Homo sapiens: one gene and its partners. The protein of the gene in region 1 purifies or fractionates together with the protein of each later gene. This does not show direct contact. Each region holds a gene or a part of one and is shown in the gene's direction. Other genes may lie near its edges.

Region 1 (3,500 bases):
CCCGGAGTTTGAGACCAGCCTGGGCAACATGATGAAACCCATCTCTACAAAAAAATACAAAAATATTAGCCAAGTGTGGTGGCACATGACTGTAGTCCCAGTTACTTGGGAGGCTGAGGTGGGAGGATGGCTTGAACCTGGGAGACAGAGGTTGCAGTGAGCCGAGACTGTGCCACTGCATTCCAGCCTGGGCGACAAGAGCGAAAATCCCTCTCAAAAATAATAATAATAAGTAAATATAAGTAAAAATTATGTTCTATTTTCTGGTTTTATGAATAAGTAGTCCCCAAAGTGACCTTTGGGTTCGTTTTTGGAATGCAAATTGTGGGTATTGTTAAGTAAAACACTATAGAATTTTAATTTTTTATTTGCTTAGTAATTTGTAGTATATAAGATCTTCTATGATATTTAAAAAAAATCAACCTGGTTAGCTTTTAGTTAATTTCAGGACATATTTTGTGTGTATTATAATTTCATAGCAGTATTTATTTTGCTACTTAAAGATGGAAAAATCTAAAGCTGGTTTTGCTGAAAATTTTAAGTTTAAAACACAAAAATAAATTAATTGTACATTAATCTTCTTTTTCCTCTTCTAATTGGTGCATATGTTTACTTTTACTAGTGATAAACCATTTGTATTTTGGTTGCTTAGAGAAGGACTTGTAATAAAGTAAAAACATTTACAACTTTATAAGTTAATGCCTTTTTAAAGCCAAGAGATTGTAAATGATAGGACAGTATCCAGCATAATAAGGAAATAATTGTACAGAAAGACAACCTTAAAGTAAGATTGGCCTCTGGTGAGAATTCTTTTGTGAATTTAAAAAACACCTTTTATGTTTTAGCACCAGTATGCATGAGCGGGTGAACCGAACAGAAAGACAGTTTCGATCACTTCCAGCTAACCAACAGAAACTACTTCCTCAGTTTCTTCTTCACTTGGACAAGATCCGGAAATGCATTGATCATAATCAAGAAATACTACTGACCATTGTGAATGATTGCATACATATGTTTGAAAATAAAGAATATGGAGAAGATGTATGTGAAAGTTTGTTCTATTTCTGTTTATTTTAGGGTCAACCTCTGTATTTTGAGGTCTTTTATTTTCTGGATTTCATTTTTATAATCTGGCACAGGCTATTTGCTCTACTCAGAAAGTTTTAACTTAAATGTTCAGTCATTTGATTAGGCTTAATAGCCAGAGACTGGATCTGTTCACTTGTTTTCCTTTTTTAAGTACTAATATAACTGTTGAGATTTTGATGCATTTTGACATAATGTTCTGTTTTGGAATACAGGGTTAGTGACTTAAATTTTTAAAAGCAACTTTACTAGCTAGAAATTAATTTCCCTTGCTTAACTCATATTTTTTCAGTGTCTTGTATCTATTGCTGTTCATCTTTTATTGTAAGAAATTGTTTTCACTTATAAATCTCAAGGGACTGGCAGTACATAGAAACTGAAGTCCTCTTTTTGTATCCACAGGATGGATACAGTTGGGCCACTCCAGTGTGAGCCTCTCCATGCTGCCCCATCAATGACCTGGAGGGACTTTCTTCCCTCTCTTAGAGAGGATGTTCGGTCTCCATAGCAGCTCAGTTTGGTCCTCTCCTGAGTAAAGACTGCTTAATTATATGGTGGTTTTATGATTAATGGACCTTAATCTTTTGAGGGTAGCAGTGAGACCACCAAACTCTTTTCATTTAGGATCTCAAGCTGCACTTGAACCCCAGTTGAGGTGAGAGGCTAGTGATTTATCCACTAAACCACCTATATAGCCCCTTAGTAGCATGTCTATTTAACCATAATATAAGTGGATTACTCTCTCAGAAGCTAATTGATGTCTGTTTTTTAAACAGGGGAATGGAAAGATTATGCCAGCATCTACATTTGACATGGATAAGTTAAAATCCACGCTGAAACAGTTTGTGAGAGACTGGAGTGAAACTGGGAAAGCAGAAAGGGATGCCTGTTACCAGCCAATCATTAAAGAAATTTTAAAAAATTTTCCAAAAGAGAGATGGTAAATAGTACCTCATTTTTAACCAAGTTTTTAAAGTGTATGAACACTTGAGTTTCTTGATAAAATGTTTCACAGTCTCGCTTCATTGTTATAGTTGCTGTGTGCCTGTATGTTTTACATGTGTAAGTGTTAACATTTGTTATTGGATGCTCTGTGTGAGATTACAGTTGTTATTTTGAATAATTTTTATGCTGGTGCTTAGGGGAAATTACTTAGAAATTAAATAATAAGGTTAGGTCGAAAATTATCAATGATGTGTATCTTTTTATAATTTGCTTTATGGCAAAGCAAAAAAACTAAACTTTTAATTCCCCTCATTATGACATAGTTGTAAACAAGTGAGGGATCTGTACCTCTGAGCAAGCAGAGATTCTTAACTTTTTTATGCCTTGGAACCATTGTTCAGTCTGAAGCCCATGGTCTGCTTTTCAGAATAATTTTTTTTTTATTTTATTTATTTATTTATTTATTTATTTATTTTTTTGAGACAGTCTCACTCTCTTGACCAGGCTGGAGTGCAGTGGTGTGGTCTTGGTTCACTGCGACCTCTGCCTCCTGGGTTCAAGTGATTCTCATGCCTCAGACTCCGAAGTAGCTGGGACTGCAGGCTTACACCACCACGCCTGGCTAATTTTTGTGTTTTTGGTAGAGACATGGGCTCACCATGTTGGCCAGGCTGGTCTCGAACTCCTGACCTCAAGTGATCCGCCTGTGTCTTCCTCCCAAAGTGCTGGGATTACAGGTGTGAGCTACCTCACCTGGCCCAGAATAACAATTTTAAGTGAATAAATTTAAGTGCATATGATTACAAAGAAAACTGATTTTGAAATACAGTTATCAAAATATTTAAAAAGTAAATTTGTGATGCATGTTTTTTTAAATCATATATCACTTTAAATACAATTTAGCTGCAAGTATAATTATGAAATGTATTATGAAAATGCTGAATGGGATATACACTGTTTTGAGAACTTCAGCTAATGTGAAGTGAAAATATGTGTGATTTCTCTTCGTGATAAAGTCATAGGTATTGCTAAAACTATTGTTTGTTGCCTGCATCCGTAATTGAGGGGAAAAAATCAGTTTCTGAAATTAAAATGTAATTTTTTCCCATTCCCTTCAGAGACTCAGTGAATTCTATCCACAGACCTCTTGATGGATAGAATTTAATCCACCTAACCTCTGTCCCAGGTTAGGAACCCCTGATTTAGGGGTATATATTTAACGAAAGCTATTGGATGGAATTCAGTCTTATTTAAAGATCTTTTAGAGAGGCTCCTTTTCCTCCTCTCCTTTGCCTCCGTATTGATTGACAACTTTACGTTTGAGTATTTGCTTTCAGAAATTTCAATACATATGTGTCTCTTCTCTCTCTTTATTTTTTGTTAGGACATTTTATTTTATTGATTATTATTTATTTATTTATTATTTTTATTTTTCACTCTGTTGCCCAGGCTGGGGTGCAGTGGCGCTG
Region 2 (3,500 bases), on another chromosome or scaffold:
CCATTTTATGTTAGTTTCTCAGGACAGATAGGTTCTAGACCACTCAGATGGTATAAATTTGAACTCTGAATTCAAGTGAGAGCAGGTCTAAGATTATAAATTCTCTAGGGATAATCCTCCTTTAACCCCTAATAGAGCCCGGGTCCTCTTATCTCCCTATATCAGGGAGGTGACTTTTTTCACTAGTTATCCTGGAGCTGTAGTTCTTCAATAATCCTTGCTTTAGATTGGGGACTGGAGTCTCATTTTCAACTTACCACCTCTATTGAGCCCAAACTCTTGCCTCTTATACCTGCATGATTGTTAGAACCCAAACTCCTTGGTTCTGGAGATCGGCAAGACCCTAAGAAGGACAGCTCAGTGGTAGTTTAAACTTACTATTATTTTTCATTTAGTTTTCTTTTCCTCTGGTTTTAGCTGGAATGTCACTTACTTTCTATGTGATCAACTATACATTTTAAGTGATTGTTACATTTTATTCAGTATTTTTAGCTGTTTTATAGTATTAGAGGTTTTCCAGGTTATCTGGTTTGCTGTAGTGGTGGAAATGGAAGTCTGTTGTTTGCCTTTTAATTTCGTAGGACTTATTGTTCATGAAAGCTGTTTAAAATACATTTATCAATCCATTCTCCTGTTTTAAAAATGAGAAAATTACATAAAAAAACTAAACCTTCCCCTTTCTCTATTTCCTTGGGGTATTATTATATGTTTGGTATATATCCCCAGTGAAATGGCTTTCAAAGAAACAAACCAGTCTTCATACCAACCTTAACATCTGGGGCATTTCTTTTACAGTGCAAAAGGATATGTTTTGTAGAAGCTGCCTGTTGGCTGGGTCGGGCCAACTCACACCTGAATTCCACTTACAAATATACTTTTGGGAGAAGAGATGTTGAAAATGGGTGTAGAGAGATTGTTTTAGTATATTGTGAAGCTCACCATTTATAGCAAGGCAGAGGGTTAATTTGTATCACTTTTAAGTCACAATAGCTCATAAGAGATAATCTTTAAAAAAAAAAATCTTAGGATTGTTTATTGCTTTGTTACCAAGATCTTCCACATATTATCTCAGAACAACACTGGGGAGAAATACGGTAGACATCATTATGCCCATTTTACCACTAAGTAAAACTGAGACTTAGTTTCCATTGTTAATGACTCTCCTGAGATTATGCAGGTTGCAGATGGTAATGATGTTATTATACCCTGCCATGAAAATTGAGGCTTCTTATATGTCTTTTTGCCATGCTGCCACTGGTGACATTCTTTATTAGGGCGAAATGAGGTATCAACTCAATATCGGCCATAAAGAACCAGTGTTTTCTTGCAGGTTTATTCAAGTCATTCATTCAACAGGTTTGAGCCCCTGCTATGATCCAGGCACCAGGAACAGATAGGAGCACTTTTCTATAACTGGGAGCTAACGTGCAGGTTTTACATTTGCTGACTGACATGCTTTCTACTTTCCTTTTGTAGATTGATGATGGTCTCCAGCTGTCAAAGAAGATTGTGGTTGCCAAGAGAAAGGTAACCATTTCTCATCCCCTTGAGTGGAATTGGATGCCTCTAGGAGCCCACATTGGCTGGCAGTAGACATGGCCGAATTTACAAGCTACAAGGAGACGGCCTCCAGCCGCCACTTGCGGTTTAAGCTACAGAGTCTAAGCCGCCGCCTTGATGAGTTGGAGGAAGCCACAAAAAACCTCCAGAAAGCAGAGGATGAACTCCTGGATCTCCAGGACAAGGTGATTCAGGCAGAAGGTAGCAACTCCAGCATGTTGGCGGAGATTGAAGTGCTGCGCCAGCGGGTGCTGAGAATTGAAGGCAAAGACGAGGAAATTAAGAGAGCAGAGGATCTGTGTCGTCTGATGAAGGAGAAACTTGAAGAGGAAGAAAACCTCACCCGGGAGCTGAAATCTGAGATTGAGCGGCTTCAGAAACGAATGGCTGAATTAGAGAAGCTAGAAGAGGCCTTCAGCAGGAGTAAGAATGACTGTACCCAGCTGTGTCTGAGCCTGAATGAGGAGAGAAATCTGACCAAGAAAATCTCCTCTGAGCTGGAAATGCTCAGAGTCAAAGTGAAAGAACTAGAATCTTCTGAGGACCGCCTGGATAAAACTGAGCAGAGTTTAGCGTCAGAGTTAGAAAAGCTGAAATCATTAACTCTGAGCTTTGTAAGTGAGAGAAAATACTTGAATGAAAAGGAGAAAGAAAATGAGAAATTGATAAAAGAACTCACTCAAAAACTAGAGCAGAACAAAAAAATGAACCGAGATTATACAAGGAATGCTTCTAATCTGGAAAGAAATGACCTACGGATTGAGGATGGCATCTCTTCCACACTGCCGTCCAAAGAATCAAGAAGGAAGGGTGGTCTGGACTACCTAAAGCAGGTAGAGAATGAAACAAGAAACAAATCAGAAAATGAAAAGAACCGCAATCAGGAAGACAACAAAGTCAAAGACCTTAACCAAGAGATTGAGAAACTTAAGACACAAATCAAACACTTTGAATCGTTGGAAGAAGAGCTTAAGAAAATGAAGTCCAAAAATAACGACCTTCAGGATAATTACCTAAGTGAACAAAATAAAAACAAATTATTAGCCAGCCAACTGGAGGAGATAAAGCTACAAATCAAGAAACAGAAAGAGTTAGAAAATGGAGAGGTAGAAGGGGAAGATGCTTTCCTGTCCAGCAAAGGCAGACATGAGAGGACTAAGTTTAGAGGCCACGGAAGTGAAGCTTCTGTGTCCAAGCACACAGCGCGGGAACTGTCTCCTCAGCATAAGCGGGAACGACTCCGGAACAGGGAGTTTGCTCTCAACAATGAAAACTATTCTCTGAGCAACAGGCAGGTTTCTTCTCCCAGTTTCACCAACAGGAGGGCAGCAAAAGCTTCTCACATGGGGGTGAGTACAGACAGTGGGACTCAGGAGACAAAGAAAACTGAAGACCGGTTTGTACCCGGCTCCTCCCAGAGCGAAGGGAAGAAGTCTAGGGAGCAGCCCTCAGTGCTGAGTCGCTACCCCCCGGCTGCTCAGGAGCACAGTAAAGCGTGGAAGGGGACTTCCAAGCCAGGCACCGAGAGCGGACTGAAGGGAAAAGTGGAGAAGACAACACGAACGTTTAGTGACACCACCCATGGATCTGTTCCCAGTGACCCATTGGGTAGAGCTGACAAGGCTTCTGACACCTCCTCTGAGACTGTCTTTGGCAAGAGGGGACACGTGCTTGGCAACGGAAGTCAAGTAACTCAGGCTGCAAACTCTGGCTGTTCTAAGGCCATTGGAGCCCTGGCCTCATCTCGAAGATCCTCCTCAGAAGGGCTCTCTAAAGGCAAAAAGGCTGCCAATGGCCTTGAGGCTGATAACAGTTGCCCGAATTCCAAGGCTCCTGTTCTATCGAAGTATCCTTATAGCTGTAGAAGCCAAGAGAACATCCTTCAGGGATTTTCAACCTCACATAAAGAAGGGGTTAATCAACCTGCAGCAGTTGTGATG
Region 3 (4,257 bases), about 58 Mb from region 1:
GTTAAGTGGAATTCAGTGAATTCAAAGCCTAGCTTTTCTGATACCAGACATGGCACTTCAGAGAAGTTACAGTAACCTTGCAAGTCTGTTTCCTCACTAGTAAAAATGGAGATATATAATAATCTAATTGAAGGTGACATATGTATTAAGTGAGTTCATATATGAAAAGTGCTTAGCACTGGACTCAGCATATGGTAAATGTTCAGTAGGTTAGCTAGTTCTAAGACAGGCTTATAAACATACTTTTTCTAATGTACTCTTTAATAAGTTTTTGTGAGGAATTCACCTTCAGTTTGAAAGAAGTCCACTTATCTTGGTTGCCTTGGCAGGATTCTAATTGGGAGGGTGTCTTTTGGCATCCTGACTAGATTCTCATGCAGAGATGGTGATATTTTGGTTAAATGAAGTTAACAGTAAAGTGGTCATCTCTCTACTTCTGCTCTCAACCCCCATCTCAGCTTTCCCCAAGTATTCTGGAACCCTTTCTGAAGAAGAGGGCAGTTCTAACTTTCAGGGATGTTCTGGTGCCAGCTCAATATGCATCTCATTAATCTTATCAATAGTAACAAAGTATTTGAAGGGCAAAGAAAGATACGATTACTACCTATTTGAAGTTTATAAAGAAAGCCAGAAGAAAAAGAAAAAAAAGAGAACAAAAGATAAAGTAGGTCTTGTTTCTTCATCCACGCTCCAAATTACTGATTTCAAACTGCTCCAAGGACCCAAACTGTTCAGCAATGTGGGCTACACTTCCTCTGATATCCAGCCAACGCATAAAGAAGCTGACATAAAAACTCAAAGGAAATCATGACTCCTGCAAAACAAAAGACAAAGGGTGTACAAAGGATCATCATTCAAGTTGGAAACCTGCTTGATAGTCCCAGATCAGCACAAGGCTTTCCACATCTCCTTGACATTAGTCAGCTGGATGTCAGCTGTACTAAAGCAGTTTTGCCAAGGGGTGTGAAGAAAACACTTAAGTGTAAAACGTATTCCTTGATCCTCAAGGAGCTTACAACAGGGCTGGGGAGATTAGCCGTGTAACTGACACTCCAGGGCGGTCAATGAAACGTGTCACACGAGTTGGCAGGGGCCTTGAAGGAGAGGGATTTCACAGTTAAGGATCATTTGGGGCTGGGGGCTTGTCAAGGAAGGCTTTAAGAGGTGGGATGTAAGTGGCAGGCAGGGCTTTAGGTGGGCGGGAAATCCAGGCGATCCTGGCCAAGGACTCAGGCACAGGACGCTGGGATGGCCTGCCCGGCGGACCGGCCTTACCCTTTCGGGCCACGGCGCGTGCGTACCCCAAGGCTCGCGCTGGGCGCATTGCCCGCGGGAAGCCGGCCAGGACCAGAGAACACGGGACACCGCGGGCCAAGGCGGGAAAAGCCTCGCGCATGCGCGGTTCGGCGTTCCGGGCTCGCCGGGTTGGGGAAAGGGAGGTGGAGTTTCCAACAGGGAACTTGACCCGTTAGCAGCCGCAGCCATGGCGGCGCGTTCGCCTCCCTCACCGCACCCTTCGCCCCCAGCGCGACAGCTGGGCCCCAGGTCCCCACGTGTTGGGCGGGGAGCTGAAGTACACGCAATGCGCAGCGAGGCCTCGGGTTTTGCCGGCGCAGCGCGGGAGGTGGTCGCGGACGAAAGTGATAAAATCTGGGTGGGTGAAGAAGGGTCAGGGGGCCGGCGAGGGCCTGGGGGGGCAGCTCCGGCTCATGCTCCCCTCCTCAGCGCGCCCATGGGGTCCAGACGGCTAGAGGGCATCTCGGTAGAGGAGGCGATGGTGACCCGGACGCAGCTGCTGGAGGAAGAGCTGAGCAGCCTAAAGGAGGAGTTGGCCCTGTGTCAGGTATCGAGGAGTCTCGCAGTCCCCCTTTCCCCACCACAGCGGGGCCGGGACCCGTGGGGAGGCGCGCCTTTCTCCCTCTGCCTTGGGACCTACCCCGCCCAGCGACGCTCCCTGGCAGATGCACACCCTGCTTCGCTCGCGGCCGGGGGCTGGAGGGACGCGGCTGCGCCCGGCTCCCCAAACCCGGGCCCCTGCCCCTTTCCGAACTGCGGCCAGACAGGCTTCGCCTCCGCGCCCGGGTTTGGTTTTGGTCACTTGGATACTCGCAGTCGCATCCTCTCCGCTTCCCCCCCAAGCCCAAGTTCTTGGTGGTGACGGTAGCTGATACCTGCCGGGGGCCCAGGAGTGACATGCAGTCCACTAGTTGAAATGAACAGGAAAGTGTAAACACTTCGGTTAGAGTAAAATCCATCGATGAAGGAGCCTGTTTTTAAAATTTCAAACCCACACTTGGCTTTGTTTTTACCCAGTCAAACTTAAGTTGTAAACACAGACGAGTAACGTTTAGAAAGTCTCAGAGCCGGGAACTTAACAATAGATGATGCTTGGTACTTGTTTATTAACCAGCTATGGTAATTCCGCGGTCCTTGAGTGAGAAATCACATTTTCATGTGATCTTGCCAGTGAAAAACATTTGCTAAATCAATTGCATTAAAATTACTTTCCTGTTTGTAGAGTTTTTGTAAGGATGGACTTGACTATACTCATGTTCAAAGAGATTGAATTTTCCTTTAGTTTTGCATCCTTACCATCATCTCTTTTGATTTTACCAGAACCTTTAGATAGGGTTGGGAGATTGGATGTGGGAAACTCACTGAACAGTAGATCTTTAAGTCACTCTGTCTTCAACTTAGAAACCAATTAGGAGCTGCTGAACATCAAAGTAACTTTGTGAACAGTATCATCAGTTTAATAAAACAGTTCATGAAATTCATTCTCTGTCGCCCAGGCTGGAGTGCAGTGGTGCAGTCTCAGCTCACTGCAAGCTCCGCCTCCCGGGTTCACGCCATTCTCCAGCCTCAGCCTCCCGAATAGCTGGGACTACAGGTGTCCGCCACCACGCCTGGCTAATTTTTTGTATTTTTAGTAGAGATGGGGTTTCACCGTGTTAGCCAGGACAGTCTCGATCTCCTGACCTCGTGGTCCGCCAGCCTTGGCCTTCCAAAGTGCTGGGATTACAGAAATTCATTCTCTCATAGTTTGTTCTGTTGGATTCTTTTGCCCATTTTATAGGTCCTTGCTGACTGAGTGAAGGGTGTAAAAATGGGACCATCTTCAAATTGAATGTGCCTTTGGTTAAACAAGGTTGGGACATTTAATATGGTGCCCTCTTTTCGTTTTACCATTTTTCTGTTCTTCGTTGGATAAGGAGCAAAGGGATAAATAAATGACAACAATGAATTGAAGCATTTGTCATCTGCAGACCTCACCCTTTGGGGAGTTTTAAGATGTGAACCCATGATAAAGGCCTTTGATACTCTGAGTCCTAATCTAAGACACTCTTTGGCATATTTTCCGCACTCTTTCCTCCCACTTCTGCCTCCCCACATAGTTAGGCCTTTAGCTGGCTAAAGAGCTAAGATACTTTTTTATGACCGACTTGGTTAAGGAAGTCAGTCTATTGGAAACAGCCTGATGAACCTCTTCCCACAAATACTTACATTCTTTAAAAATGTGGCTCCAAACATGGTGTTGGCTTTTGTGACCTCGGACATATATAGACTAGGAAAATGATTGACATACTCTTGGCAAATGTAAGAATACAGAGATGGTCATAATAGTCTAGAATGATGATCTCTTAGATTTTGTAATATTAATACTCTTATATAATTGTAGGCAGTATCCCGCACCATAAAAATCTTAGTCAAATCAGACTCCTGCTCTTCGGGAATCTTGGGGAAAAATAGTAATTGAACTCCCAATTGTTTTGTAAAAAGCATTTAGGTGATTAAATATTCACTTTTATATCTTTTAAAGTATACTCTCCCGCTTATTTATTCAGCTAGAGATCACAGTACCCAAGAATACATAGCATTAAAACTGCTGAAAATTACAACTCGAAGTAAAATTTTGTATCTCAATCTAGTAAGTACACACATATACAAACATATATTTTCAGAAAGAATACATGCCCTAATACTGTGTGGGCTGATATTTTTTCAGTTCTATTCCTTTAAAAAATGCTGTCCAGATCTAAATTAATTTCAGAACCCAACAAGGCTTGAAACATACAGTTTAGGAAAAAGAACACTGCTAATTAGTCCATGGTCATAAGTAGTAGCTTCATTTAATTTGTTTTGCTTTCACATTCAACTTATGGGAATTCAGTGATGTGTGCTTGGTGAAGTTTGAGTAATTCCCCATACCATTCTACATCATTGGAATGCCTCAGAATAAGCATGTAATAGAAAGCA
Region 4 (3,500 bases), on another chromosome or scaffold:
GTTTCTTTTGTTTAATCTGACCTTAACTCATCGGCATGAAGCCTAGTCTTAAGTGTATTAAAATAACCAATTAGGGACAATAGTCAGTGACACGGTGATGTCTAAAGATATACTGCTTCCTAGAATTATCAATAAAAATTAAAACATCCAGCTTTTGAAGATATATCCAACTTATATCATCCTGATGTTTTCTTCCTAAATCTAAAAAATTGGAGCTAAATTTAGAGTAGATTATGTTTCACTGACATTTTAAACTATATTTAAAACTTACTCTTCAGTGTCAGTTTTCTCCTTTATAAAATCTGTACATTAGCAACTTCCTTCAGAGGACTACTAAAAATATGAAATAACATTCCCTCGGCCAGGAGGAGGGCTGAGTGTGGCCCCTGCCATCTGGTGAGCAGCAGGGGTCTGGGGAGGTCTGTGCTGCACACAACACAGTACTGTCAACAGTTTGCACAAGGGGTACAAATCAGAACCTGTCTTGCAACACTTTTAGTTGTCACCCTAGTGTTAGGATTTGGTTGTATTGAGAGCTGTTTGTTCACATTTGAAAATGTTTTTGCCATGAAAAGATTGCCTTTGTCATATTTATTGCAAAATCTAAACTGTATGTATTGATATGATTCAATCAAATAATTATGTAAGTTAGTGATTAAAATATTGTAGAGTATACTGAAAAGGATAGCTCTCAGGAAGGTTCATCTGCACTTTTTGCAATATGTTACAGATTTTGTTGCATATGGTTTTATTTGTCTCATTCAATGAACTCTTGAATCAAACCAGTTATGTAGTTTCCTCATTACAGCCCAGTGAGTGCAAAAACAAAACCTTTAGGATCAAGAGATGTTTTGCCAAATAACCGTCAACTTTATGAGATGGTCCTGACATATAACTTTCATCAAGTAAGTGTTTGCCTAGTAAAGTGTACCCTTAGGATGAACTTTTGTGTTTTATTTATGATTCATAGAATCAAAAATGGAAGGACAGTGTATATGGTATATATAAAAAACAGAATCAAGTGATTAACAGTTAATTTGGAATTACTCTTTAGGAAATTATAATTTGTAATTAAATACCATTCAGTTGTAAAGTCACAAAATGTAATTGAGTGGTGACCTAGCCTTAAGCCTTAGTTTATAAAATCACTGATCACTGTCCATTGGTGCCATCTGACCCAGGGGTGATTAGATGGCTCAGAAATACCATCTGCCTTCTGGTGATGGTGCTGGGCCTGATTGCTTTCTGCGAAGAAGGCACTGGAACAGGGAAAGGTCAGAGTAGCTCCCAGGTGGGATGGGTGGCAAAAGTAATGGAGGCCAGTGTAAATGCTGGACCAAAGAATTGTTGTAAGATCAATGAGATTTCAATAAAACTGTTACTGAAACACACATCAGTTTGGTTATAATGTTAGGGAAATGGATTGGTTTCAGTGAATTTTCACATTTCAGTTTTATAAAGTAATTAGAGGTCCTGAAGTATGTATATGTTGCTTTATTAATGAATACACATAGCCAGGTGTGTATTTTTAAAAGTTTGTAAGAGAGCAGTGACTTTTATAAGTGCTAAAATACTGTGTGTTCTATATTTTCAAAATTTTTTACCACAAGTATTTTTAATGTTTTTTAAATGAAAAAGTCTCATGTCAATAACAATATTAAAAATTTGTATCAGAAATTATATGCAAATCATGCCAAGTAATCTTTTTTGTTTTTTAATAGCCCAAGAGTGGGGAAGTAACTCCAAGCTGCCCACTACTTTGTGAACTATTATATGAATCTGAATTTGACAGCCAACTGTGGATTATTTTTGACCAGAACAAAAGACAGATGGGTTCAGGCGATGCCTATCCACATCAGGTATAAAATTGATGGTGATTTTTAGAATTAACGGAAGCTGTTTCCTGAACTAACAAAATCCTGGTTTCTTGTTATGGTAATGTTCATACTTTAAAAAAAACAAAAATTATAGCTTTGTGTTTAGTACTTTTGCAAACTGTGAGAGCCTGTTTGTTGTAGTCGGTGAAGAACAGATGGTGTCAACTATTTCACCATGTAGTTGTGCTGAATTAGAGGAGGACAAGGGTGAACCTTGCCCACACTGGCCAGCATAACTTTTGGTGTGTGGTGTTTCTCCTTCCTATACACTGATTCTACCTATCTGAAGGTAGAATCATCAAAGCATGCATCAAAGAGATGCGAGCCTCTTGAAATGATCCTAAGTCTGAGGGGGCTAAAGAGAGCACTGCAGCAGTGGCCGCATGTCTTCAGTTCATTTGTACTTTTAAATTTACTACCTCGTTGGACAACTCTGTAATGAGCACTTACTACATACCAGGCACTATGCTTTGTGCTGTTTTATTGAAGGGAAAAATCACATAATTTATAGACATTTTATCCCTTAGATATTACTGCAAAGAAATGAGATATTTCCTGTAATATGTATAATTTTATGTTGACAAATGAAAATAATTTATGGAGATTTTTTTCAATTAGTTGTTAAAGGAATGGTATCGATTTTCCTCAAAGCAAGTAGCAGTCACATCTCATTACAGACTGGCCTACTGCAGTGCTATTATTTTGGTTACTTTTTAAATCTCAGAAAAAGTGGCTGACACAGGATACAGCATCTCTTCCTCTTGAACCTGTTAAGTGGATAATAGATTTGTATCCCTTGATCTCTATTGGTTTCCTGTTTTTTTCCTGTCTGTAATAAAGGAGTGACATTTTGGTTGTAATTTGAAGATCAGCTGGGCATGGTGGCACATGCCTGTGATCCCGTCTACTCAGGAAGCTGAGGTGGGAGGATCGCTTGAGCCCTGGAGCTCTAGGCTATGGTGCACTATGATTGCACCAGTTAACAGCCACTGCACTTCAGCCTGGGCAACATAGTGAGTCCCCCTCTCTAAAAGGAAATAAGGATTACCAGTAGTCATAAGTTACACGTGTGTGTGTGTGTGTGTGTGTGTGTGTGTGTGTGTGTATTTGTCCTAGATATTCTATGGTGCCTCAATTTTGCTCATTTTTTTGGTAGTGTTTCTTATATGTCTCTGAGGGACCCATGAACTAGAAAATCACTGCTTTTGTCATTCTCAAGCAGACACTGAGTTTTGCTAAAAGTGTGGGAGTATTCTGTCGTTCTGGAAAGAATGAGGGCTTTGAAGTCAGACCTGACTTCAGCTCTCTTATACTTTACTCTGTGTGATGTTAGGCAAGTCACTTGATGTCCCTGATCCTGTCTGCTCACCAGCGTACTAGGGACTTTATGTGTTATATGAACGTCTGGATAGTTAGTTCCTTGCACTGTACCTCACATATTATGAACAAGTCTGTGAATGGTAACTTTCACTTTATCCTCTTTCAGTGATTTCCGTTGACTTGGTTAAACTTAACTTTTCCCAAATGTTGTTTTTCTTTTTCAGTATTCTTTGAAACTGGAGAAAGGAGATTATACAATTCGACTACAGATTCGCCATGAGCAAATCAGTGATTTGGAACGCC
Region 5 (3,500 bases), on another chromosome or scaffold:
AAACAAATGTCTGCCTAATTATTTAGGTCATTCATAGATTTATCAAACAGTACCATCATCTGAGTAATCTTAGCTGTTTTTACCAGTTTCCTATACTGCCTTTAATATTACTACCATTAGTATCATTGTGGAGACTGTTCAGCATTGACCAGGACAGCTTGCTTGCTTGCTTTCTATCAGTTGTCAGTAAATAATTGAACGTCCGTGAAGTAAAGAGTAAAAGAACTAACTTGTTAATTGATAAAATTACAAAGCACTTTTATTACTCCAAATTACAGATCTTAAACTACAAGATCTATAAAATAAATACCACTTTGGAAATACGTACAAAGAGTTTGCATCATTCTTTGGGTAAATACATTCTTCCCCCCTTCCTCTCATTTTCAATTGTAGGTACTCGACCACCACTGATAAAAAATTTACCTAAGCCCATTGAGAGCCTGATGACTCGTTGTTGGTCTAAAGATCCTTCCCAGCGCCCTTCAATGGAGGAAATTGTGAAAATAATGACTCACTTGATGCGGGTATAATCCTTCTTTTGAGGGGCTTTGGATTTAGGGGAATTTAATATGTGCTGAGTTTTAATGGAATTTTAAAAGGGATGTTATTACTATATTCTGCTTTATATATTGCTATGTTTTCTAAGTGAGAATGGGCATTTATTACTCATAGTCAGAAGAGGAAACATTTCGAGAGGGAAAATCTAGTTCTTTATCACTGGAAAGATGGCTAGACTAGGTTTCTAGACTTGCTTTTTTCTTTTTGCTTACATTAGTGGACAAGTATGTTTGTCTCTGGGCCTGTTGCCTCATTTGTAATGTGGGAGAAACTGAAATAGATAGTCTCTAAAGCCATCACAGGACTTGGATATATTAATATTATGACTTCAATACATGATAAACTAAATTTTACATTTTTCTGATACCAATTTTCATCAAGCATTTAGTCATTTATGCAAGGCAATAGGTTGCATTCTCAGACACATTTATTTGAGTGACTTTTACTATTTGGCCTATTTTCAGGTTTTTATATCCCAGTAAAAAGTTAAACTTTCTTCTATTTAGAAGAACCCTTTTAAATGATTATCAAATTTTCCTAGTCTGTGAATCAAGCGCCTTTAGAATTATTTGGAATATTTTACGCCTCTGGTTTTTGGTACATTAACAAAAACTGTGAAGTGGTATCTTGGCTTTAAAAAGTTCAAATATCTATGAAAGTGCCTGAATTTTGAAACAGTTTGTTCAGTAGAAGAATCTTACAATCTCCTTAAATATAGACTAAGTAATTTCCTAAATGGTAAAACGTTGTTTATTCAATCTATTGAAAATTTCTTACGCAAAGCAGCTTGAACTAATCTACTAAAAGTTTACCATCGTATTTGGATACCAGTCATATATAGAAGCCTAGGCCTTAAAGGTGTGTGCATAAGAAAACAACTTAGTCTCTGTAGTCAGATTACTTAAAACTTTAGGATATATAAGTTATTGCAGTTGTAATTTTGCTTCTCTGTTCCTTGTCTAATTTGAGGAGAATACGTTTCCTTTTTTTCTCTAAATTCTAACATTTTTGTCCAGCAGATACTTTGAGTATTATGCCTCCAGTTTGTAGAAAGACATTCATAATCTATCCTCTTAATATTTAAAATGTTCTAACAATTATTCTATGGTATACTAGTCTCAGTCTTCAGACTAACAGTCACTGGAAGTTTACATCACTACTGTAAGAACATGAGTATGTTTTACATAATTATGAGAAATGATACTATTTTATTTCATATGTTTCTCTAGAGAAATATTTGCTGTTTTCTTCAAGACTATCTAGACTCCAATGTAAGCTAGATTCTTAGGTAGGTGCATGGCATTGATCAAAGTTGAAATCCAAGAGTACATTATTGTAATCTTTGTAAAATAAAAAACTTAGGCACCTACAAATTTAGTATATAACTTAGGGAAAATAAAACATTAATCAGGATTTAATTTGTATTAAGGAAATTTTAAGCTGTGGTTTACTTTTTTATATATAGTACTTTCCAGGAGCAGATGAGCCATTACAGTATCCTTGTCAGTATTCAGATGAAGGACAGAGCAACTCTGCCACCAGTACAGGTAAATGGATAGATTGGAAGAGTATTGACTTGATTTTTCTTTCATCTCTATTCCCATGAAATTATAATCAAGAAGTAATGAATAATGTCCCCATTTGCATTTTAATTCCTTCATTTCATATGATTGACTGCAATTTGAGTTTACAGGTGCGTCATTCTTCATGTAGGTACCCTGATTAAAGAGTTATTGAAGACCTGCTTCCAAGTCTTAGAATTCCTACATAATTATGAATAAAAAGATGGCATATTGTATTACAGTGAATGTCATTCTTAACTTGAAAAATCACTTTTACATGCATACTACTAGATCAAGTAGTATTAGAAATTATTGTAAATGTATTTAAACATTTCTTCATCACGAACACCCTAGTTTTTGTTCTCTTCTACAGAGGCTCTGATTTAAGAAGCTATGTTAAAAGTTCCTTAGTTTTCCGAAATGTGAAGTAGTAGTGGGACATGTAATTTGTGGTCATCAAAAAGATAGTAGAAATAATACTGTAACTTAGAAATATTGTACTTCTCAAAATATAGTGGCATTATAAGCATTTCATTATTAATTGAAACTTAAAGATATGTGTGTGTCTATATGCACATGTATTTACCCTGCATTTATTGAAAAATACTTTTACTGATCTATTTCTCCCACCTCAAGAATAGTTTTATTTATTTTAAGATGGTTACTGCTTGGCTAGTTATTCTCAAATTCCAGTTTTACTGAAAATATTTTGAGTTGCTCTGAATTCTAAAATGTACTTCTCTAAAATTCTATCATTTGTGTCTCCCACGTCCTCTAAACTCTCTCTTCATTTCCTTACTGTGACCTTGAATTTTTTGAGCCTCCCACCTTTTCACTGGTCCTCAGTCCTCTTAGGTCCTTTTTTCTTTCTCCCTCCACTTAATTCCAATCAACTATTATAATTCTTTTGGGAATAATTTTCATCTTTCTAGCCTCTCTCTCAAGCTTGCTTGGCTAAACCACAAGCCTAATGAAAGCTGACACTCGGCTTACTCCTTGCCTGTACCAATGCAGCTGAGTGTGGCTGGAGATAGCACAGGTTTACTATCCTCACGTGCATGTTTAGTGCTATTGGACAGTTGTACTGTATTGTAGTTCATCTCTTTCCTCCTATATGTCTTAATTTTATACTGTAGCCTCTCCTCAGACTTCAAACACCTCCTCGCCACTCCTCACTCTCAGCTGATCTTGTTTGCTCTTTCTCTGAGAAAATTGGAGTAATCGGAAGACAGCTTCCACAACATCTGTGCCCATCTACTCTGCTTTCTTCTGTTACTCTGGCTAAACTATCCATACTTCTGGCCAAAGGTGTACCTTTCTGCCTGTGCATTATATCCCATCTGCTCCTCTGAGCAATTCTCCCCTGTCTCTTGCATCATC
Region 6 (3,500 bases), on another chromosome or scaffold:
ACTTAACACCCAGCTTAGCTGAGCAGTCTAGCCTTGTGGAGTGGAGTTATGGCCTGTCTTTCTCTGCAGAGTGGAGTGTGGGATTTGGGGCAGGGCCGTGTGGGACCAAGCAGGATGGAAGTCCTGCTGCTTCAGGCCAGGAAAGTAGGGACAAGGTTTGTTTTCCATTTTGCTAAAGGCTGTCAATCTGTATTCTCTCTTTTGCAGAACCGTGGGTACCGATGGATGTGGCCGAGAGCCCTGAACGGGATCCTCACTCTCCAGAGGATGAAGAGCAGCCACAGGGACTCTCGGACGATGACATTCTGAGGGACAGCGGGTCCGATCAGGATTTGGACGGGGCGGGGGTGAGGGCTTCTGATCTGGAGGATGAGGAAAGTGCAGCCAGGGGGCCGAGCCAGGAGGAGGAAGATAATCACTCCGACGAGGAGGACCGGGCAAGTGAGCCTAAATCCCAAGACCAGGACTCAGAGGTGAATGAGCTGAGCCGGGGCCCGACCAGCTCCCCCTGCGAGGAGGAGGGGGACGAAGGGGAGGAAGACCGGACAAGCGACCTTAGGGATGAGGCCTCCTCAGTCACCAGGGAGCTGGATGAGCATGAGCTAGACTACGATGAGGAGGTTCCTGAGGAGCCAGCTCCCGCCGTCCAGGAGGACGAGGCTGAGAAAGCGGGGGCTGAGGATGATGAGGAGAAAGGCGAAGGCACTCCCAGGGAGGAGGGGAAGGCTGGTGTTCAGAGTGTGGGAGAAAAGGAATCCCTGGAGGCTGCCAAGGAGAAAAAGAAAGAGGACGATGATGGAGAAATCGATGATGGGGAAATAGACGTGAGTATGATGGAGCAGAGCGTCGCGGGGCATCCTGCCCAGCAGCCTGACATAGACTGGTGCTGGAAAGGAGGGACTCTGTGTGGGACTGACTTAGTGATTTGTTACTAGGGATGGTGCAGGAGAATGAGAGGCTTGTTTTGGGTTCAGTCCCATAGTGATTGGAGAGAAAGAGCCAGAAATCGAGAATGAGCAGAGGCAGCTCCAGAAGCTGCCAGCAGGGTTTCCGTGGCCCTCGGCCGGCCAGCTGGTGGGATTGTTTGGGTTGTAGTGAAAGGTCCAGCGCCCAGTGTTTTTAGGTTCTAGGAATGAAGGGTTAATGTCTGTCCTTGTCTTTGCCGTCTTCAAGTGATACTCAAGTTAACACTCAACCAGAAACCACGTGGGTTTCCACTCTTGTCAGGTTTTTGGACTGAAAAGAATGAGGAAATTTTCCATCTGGTTTTGGATGTTTTAGGCATTTTTATGCTGGTCCTAGAGCCTGACCTCTGGAGAGGGCACCAGCTGGGCCAGGCCTCTTTGGACATATCCCTGAAAAGACTGTGGTGGGCACCTCAACTTCTGACAAAGCCAGCACACTTTTTTGTACATTAAATTAATGTGGCCTTCAGGTTGAGGGGAAGGTAGTACTATCTATGATCCTAGGTATGGGTAGGTGGGGTTTTCTTAGCAGTTGATGCCGTTGGAAAAACTATGAGTGTTTCGGGAGAAACACCCCAAAGTCCTCCTGAGTGATACTTGCCGGAGCTATTGAACTCAAAGGAGGTGAGCAAGGGACAGAGCAGTTGAACTGAACTGGGTTTTTGTTGTTTTTTTTTTGAAAGATCCTGGGGAAGGGGATTGTGCTTATGGGGAGTCATTGCGGTGAAGAGTGTCTGCCGAGAGTATCTCTCTGATGTCATGCTCTGGGTTGAGGCAGGTAAAGGCTGCCAGTTAGATGTGTAACCGCCGGTTTGCCTTGAATGCCATGCTCCTTTTTTTTGAGAGAGAGAGTCTACCCTGTAACCCAGGCTGGAGTGCAGTGGCGCCATCTCAGCTCACTACAGCCTCTACCCCCAGGTTCAGGCAATTATCCTGCCTCAGCCTCCTGAGTAGCTGGGATTACAGGCGCCCGCCACCACTGGCTAATTTTTGTATTTTTCGTAGAGATGAGGTGTCGCCCTGTTGGCCAGGCTTGTTTCAAACTCCTGACCTCAGGTGATCCGGCCGTCTCAGCCTCCCACAGTGCTGGGATCACAGGCGTGAGGCACCACGCCCGGCGGGTGCCATGCTTCTCCAGTAGCATGCTGGCGTGCGTGCTCTCAATGCACGTTTGGATATGACTTTCCGGCCATCGCTGCTCTCTGTGGCACTGCTCAGTAATTTATAGGGTTTGAAGTATTGCTCATGTGACTTTACGGGACGTGTGTGCACCTGCAAGCTGAGAATTTTAGATGTTTCATCTTTCCGCAGCGAAGTGTAGGAAGTGGTCTCCTCAGCTAGTGCTTTTTGCAAGAGGAGACCTACCCCAGGGCTGGCAGAGGGAAAGGAGAGACGGTGAGATTCAGGTTCATCAGCTGGGGGAGCTGGTTGGGTTGAGGATGCCCATGAGACTGAGTTTTTGTGTCCTGGGGGTAACAGCCCTGTCTGCACCACCACTGGGAGTGCAGCAGGTCCTGCACCCAGGGCTCTGGCGTGCTCTAGTTCCTCTTAAGAGGACTGGCTGCAGACCCTCAAGTCTTGGGGGAGATTCATCAGACGGATCAAGGGTCCCCATAGTGGTCCTGAAAGGCCATGTCTGTGGAGCATACTGTGAGTTCTCAGTGCCGCACCATGGGCGCGGGCGGTGCGGTAGATGGGTCCAGCTGCTCTGGAGAATGGCCCTGGCTGCCAAGGGCCTGGACATGCTGGTTTCCCCTAGACACAGCACATGGAAGAAAAACCCCATTTGCCATTTTTGCCTACCTAGACCTTGCCTGCCCTGCCTGGCACCGTCTTGTGAGGGGACCCACAGTTGAAAACGGAGTGCTGCTGTGGAAACCCCAGCACAGCTCCCTTGGCAAACGGGGAGGCAGGTTTCTTCCACCGCACAGACTGCCTCCAGCGCCCCACATCCCCCATAGGTCTGTGCTCCTGGACACCAGCACAGGTGGACCTTGCTGTGCCACATGCTGAGTGTGACTGGGCAGGGCGGAGCAGAGCCCGCTCCTGCTGTGGGGGCAGCAGGCCTTTAACCAAGGTGGGCAGTGCTGTGAATGGTGGGTTCAGCCTCTACAAGAGCACATTTGACTTCAGGCCCCTGGGTTGCTTGCCCCAGGAGCCCCCGTGGTCTCCTCTTGTTCCCACGCCCAGCAGCGTTTCAGGCTCCTCCATCCTTTATGTGTCAACCTCAGCATTTGCGTAGGCTGTTTCTCTGTTGCCTCTGCCTCTCTGTCGTGACACAGGTTCATCTGTGTGTGTGTGTGTGTGTGTGTGTGTGTGTGTGTGTGTGTGTGTGTGTGTGTATATGTATATGTCTCTGCCTGCTGCTTCCCCTATTCCCAAGAACATGTTTCCTAAGACTGGGGGCTACCTGGCTGGTTCCCCTATCTCCCTGGGGCCTGGCACATAGTGGGCAGCCAGTCAGTAGAGGAATCCTACTTGCCCGGGGCACATTGAAGGTGAGAACCTTTGTAATGTGAAGTGGCAGTGAGTGGA
Region 7 (3,500 bases), on another chromosome or scaffold:
ATCTCTACTAAAAGTACAAAAAATTAGCCGGGCGTGGTGGCAGGCACCTGTAATCCCAGCTACTTGGGAGGCTGAGGCCGGAGAATCGCTTGAACCCGGGAGGCGGAGGTTGCAGTGAGCCGAGGTTGTGCCACTGTACTCCAGCCTGAGCAACAGAGTGAGACTCCATTTCAAAAAAATACAAAGAAAAGTCTAGAGTCAGTGTTTTCCCTGCAAATGTCCAGTTTTTCAGTCTCTTTTCCCCTACTGAATTGCCTTTGCTCCTTTGTCAAAAACCACGTAGGAGTAGGAGGAGTGAGTTGTGAAATCAGGGTGTGTTGGCCCCCCAGCTTCATACATTTGCACAGGTTTCTGGCTATTCTTGGTCCCTTGTGTTTCCATGTGAATTTTAGAATCGGCCAATTTGTATAAGAAAGTGTGCTAAGATTTTGATTGACGGTATATAGAATCTACAGATCAATGTAGGAGAATTAAATTCTTAACAGTATTGAGAGTCTGGGCTCAGTGGCTCACACCTGTAATCCCAGCACTTTGGGGGGCTGAGGTGGCCTGATCGCTTGAGCCCAGGAGTTCGAGACCAGCCTAGGCAACATGGTGAAACCCCATCTCTACAAAAAATTTAAAAATTAGCCTAGTGGGGTGTTGCATGCCTGTAGTCCCAGCTACTCAGGGCCCCCACACCACAACCTGGAAGCTCTTCACACAGGAAGCTGAGCAGTTGGGGCCTGTTTGTCTCCCATCTTTCTGAGATTCACTGTCTTTCATAGCCCAGTACTCAGTGCTTCGAAAACTGTTGCTTCGTATATTTTGCCTGATTTTGTGGTTATTTCAGGCAGAAAGTTAATACAGTTCTTGTACTGTGTCTTGACTAGAAACGAGTCCCACCTGAACTCTCAGAGGTCTTTGGTTTAATAAAATATGATACCTTACAGCTAAAGCTTCTTACTACTCTTTTCCTGGAGATTTGGCTGTCTGATATCTGCTGCCTCATTATTTTTACTTAAAAAGGCGGAATTACTTTGCAACACCTTGTACACAGTGATATGTCTTATAAAACAATCACTAGATATTATGAACAATGTTTGTAGGTGCCTTAGGTGTCTGTCTTGAAACCCTGAGAACTAGGAGTGCTTACCCCAAAATGACAGTCACTGGTTCCTCCTTGGAATGAGACATCGCAAATTCCAGGGGCATCTCTGGAGGTGCTGCCCCACCAGGGGATATGTGGAATCAGTTGATTCACTTACTTGTGATCATCTCTCCACGCACAGGTGGGCTTCTGGCCTCTCACAGAGTCTGAAGCATGAGCTGCCTCAGATCTATTGGAAGCAAATGGGATAGAAATCTAAGAAAAGCAAATGTGAAATTACTGATGTCTGATCAAGCAGGCAATACATTTGACTTGGTGTTTCAAAATAAAGTCTCAGTTTTTGTATAGGTGGGGTGGTGTATACTTTGCCAAAGAATCTTATGTGAAAGGACCAATTCTCACCCAAGTTTGAAAGGTTTGGTTTCGTGTTTGGTTTTTGGTTTTGCTCACTCTCCCTCTACGTCTAAACACCTTAGGAGTCCTGTCACTTACACTTTTTGGGCCTCAGCTGGCCTGTTGTTTCTGTTTGTTACTTTGTTTTTATCATTTTCCTCCTGTAGTGTGTAGAGGAGAATGTTGTGAAGGCATGGATCTTTTCCATTGAACGACCTGAATTTCGGTCTGTAATAACTAACTCCTGAAGAAAGTGCATCTTCTGTGTCTTGTGTCTCTATGTTTTAGTCCTGCTTGTTGCTAAATGAGACAACAGAAAACTGAAGACTGCATTTCTAGAAAGGTTTCAGAGAAAGGCTGTGTTTTGATTTAGAACTGGTTTTTTTGTTTTTTGTTGCACAAAAACAAACCTCTCAGGCCCTTTAAAAAAAAAGAGAGAGAGAGGTGTGGCCTCCCTATGTTGTCCAGGCTCCTTGGGAACTCCTGGACTCAAACAGTCCTCCTGCCTTGGCCTCCCGAAGTGCTGGGATTCCAGGCGTGAGCCATTGCACCCGGCTGACATGCAAGTTCTGAGGAAAGCCAGGCTGTCTTTCTTGAGTCACGGAGTAGTTGTCTTCATGACATGTTGATACCAGGTGATAATGGTCAGTGAAAGAGAGAGGTTAGTCCTTTGTATTAGGTGGCATCCTTCCCTCACACCCAAGCTGCAGGCCCAGCGTAGGAATGGGACCTCCACAGCCACACAGGTCTCATCCTGTGTGGCTGTGAAGGTCGCTATATGACTCTGGAGGTAGCTATGTGACTATGGAGGTCTCGTCCCGTGTGGCTGTGGAGGTCGCTGTGTGACTGTGGAGGTCACGTCCCATGTGGCTGTGGACATCTTGTCTGTGTGGCTGTGGAGGTTGCTGTGTGACTATGGAGGTCTCGTCCTTTGTGGCTGTGGACGTCTTGTCTATGTGACTGTGGAGGTTGCTGTGTGACTGTGGAGGTCGCGTCCCGTGTGGCTGTGGAGGTCACTGTGTGACCATGGAAGTCGCGTTCCGTGTGGCTGTGGAGGTCGCTGTGTGACTATGGAGGTCTCTCTCGTCCGTGTGGCTATGGAGGTCTGTGTGGGAGTATGGAGGTCACATCCCGTGTGGCTGTGGAGGTCGCTGTGTGACTGTGGAGGTTGCTGTGTGACTATGGAGGTCGCTATGTGACTATGGAGGTCGCTGTGTGACTATGGAGGTCTCATCCATGTGGCTGTGGAGGTCTCTGTGACCATGGAGGTCACGTCGCATGTGGCCGTGGAGGTCGCTGTGTGACTATGGAGGTCACGTCCCATGTGGCTGTGGAGGTCGCTGTGTGACCATGGAGGTTACTGTGTGCCTATGGAGGTCGCTATGTGACTATGGAGGTTGTTGTGTGACTATGGAGGTCTCGTCCATGTGGCTGTGGAGGTCTCTTTGTGACTATGGAGGTCACGTCCCATGTGGCCGTGGAGGTCTCTGCGTGACTGTGGAGGTCACGTCCCGTGTGGCTGTGGAGATCTCTGTGTGACTATGGAGGTTTCATCCATGTGGCTCTGAAGGTCTCTGTGTGACTATGGAGGTCGCGTCCCATGTGGCTGTGGAGGTCGCTGTGTGGCTATGGAGGTCGCGTCCCGTGTGGCTGTAGAGGTCGCTGTGTGACTATGGAGGTCTCGTCTGTGTGGCTGTGGAGGTCGCTGTGTGACTATGGAGGTCGCGTCCCATGTGGCTGTGGAGGTCGCTGTGTGACTATGGAGGTCTCGTCCGTGTGGCTGTGGAGGTCGCGTGTGTGACTATGGAGGTCTCGTCCATGTGGCTGTGGCGGTCTCTGTGTGACTATGGAGGTCTCGTCTGTGTGGCTGTGGAGGTCTTTGGGTGACTATGGTGGTCACGTCCCATGGTCCCATGTGGCTGTGGAGGTCGTGTGTGACTATGGAGGTCTCGTCCACGTGGCTGTGGAGGTCTTTGTGTGACTATGGAGGTCACGTCCCATGTGGCTGTGGAGGTCG

What was found.
Region 2: the proteins of CARNMT1 (region 1) and LUZP1 purify together in Homo sapiens (affinity purification with mass spectrometry; 3 studies listed by BioGRID and IntAct, with this or other methods). This does not show direct contact.
Region 3: the proteins of CARNMT1 (region 1) and CNTLN purify together in Homo sapiens (affinity purification with mass spectrometry; 2 studies listed by BioGRID and IntAct, with this or other methods). This does not show direct contact.
Region 4: the proteins of CARNMT1 (region 1) and TPP2 purify together in Homo sapiens (affinity purification with mass spectrometry; 3 studies listed by BioGRID and IntAct, with this or other methods). This does not show direct contact.
Region 5: the proteins of CARNMT1 (region 1) and MAP3K7 purify together in Homo sapiens (affinity purification with mass spectrometry; 3 studies listed by BioGRID and IntAct, with this or other methods). This does not show direct contact.
Region 6: the proteins of CARNMT1 (region 1) and ZC3H18 purify together in Homo sapiens (affinity purification with mass spectrometry; 3 studies listed by BioGRID and IntAct, with this or other methods). This does not show direct contact.
Region 7: the proteins of CARNMT1 (region 1) and CUL4A purify together in Homo sapiens (affinity purification with mass spectrometry, with the first as the bait; one large-scale study listed by BioGRID). This does not show direct contact.

What each region holds. Positions count from the first base shown.
Region 1 is NC_000009.12:75,014,794-75,018,293, reverse strand, and holds part of CARNMT1 (carnosine N-methyltransferase), read left to right. Parts: intron 1-845; coding exon 846-1,041; intron 1,042-1,862; coding exon 1,863-2,026; intron 2,027-3,500.
Region 2 is NC_000001.11:23,092,357-23,095,856, reverse strand, and holds part of LUZP1 (leucine zipper protein 1), read left to right. Parts: intron 1-1,476; 5' UTR 1,477-1,595; coding exon 1,596-3,500.
Region 3 is NC_000009.12:17,133,583-17,137,839, forward strand, and holds the start of CNTLN (centlein), read left to right. Parts: upstream 1-1,457; 5' UTR 1,458-1,483; coding exon 1,484-1,843; intron 1,844-4,257. UniProt on the Homo sapiens protein: Required for centrosome cohesion and recruitment of CEP68 to centrosomes.
Region 4 is NC_000013.11:102,645,486-102,648,985, forward strand, and holds part of TPP2 (tripeptidyl-peptidase 2), read left to right. Parts: intron 1-808; coding exon 809-905; intron 906-1,721; coding exon 1,722-1,859; intron 1,860-3,421; coding exon 3,422-3,500. UniProt on the Homo sapiens protein: Cytosolic tripeptidyl-peptidase that releases N-terminal tripeptides from polypeptides and is a component of the proteolytic cascade acting downstream of the 26S proteasome in the ubiquitin-proteasome pathway.
Region 5 is NC_000006.12:90,549,073-90,552,572, reverse strand, and holds part of MAP3K7 (mitogen-activated protein kinase kinase kinase 7), read left to right. Parts: intron 1-393; coding exon 394-524; intron 525-2,023; coding exon 2,024-2,105; intron 2,106-3,500. UniProt on the Homo sapiens protein: Serine/threonine kinase which acts as an essential component of the MAP kinase signal transduction pathway. Plays an important role in the cascades of cellular responses evoked by changes in the environment.
Region 6 is NC_000016.10:88,576,903-88,580,402, forward strand, and holds part of ZC3H18 (zinc finger CCCH domain-containing protein 18), read left to right. Parts: intron 1-207; 5' UTR 208-221; coding exon 222-824; intron 825-3,500.
Region 7 is NC_000013.11:113,212,613-113,216,112, forward strand, and holds part of CUL4A (cullin-4A), read left to right. Parts: intron 1-3,500. UniProt on the Homo sapiens protein: Core component of multiple cullin-RING-based E3 ubiquitin-protein ligase complexes which mediate the ubiquitination of target proteins. As a scaffold protein may contribute to catalysis through positioning of the substrate and the ubiquitin-conjugating enzyme.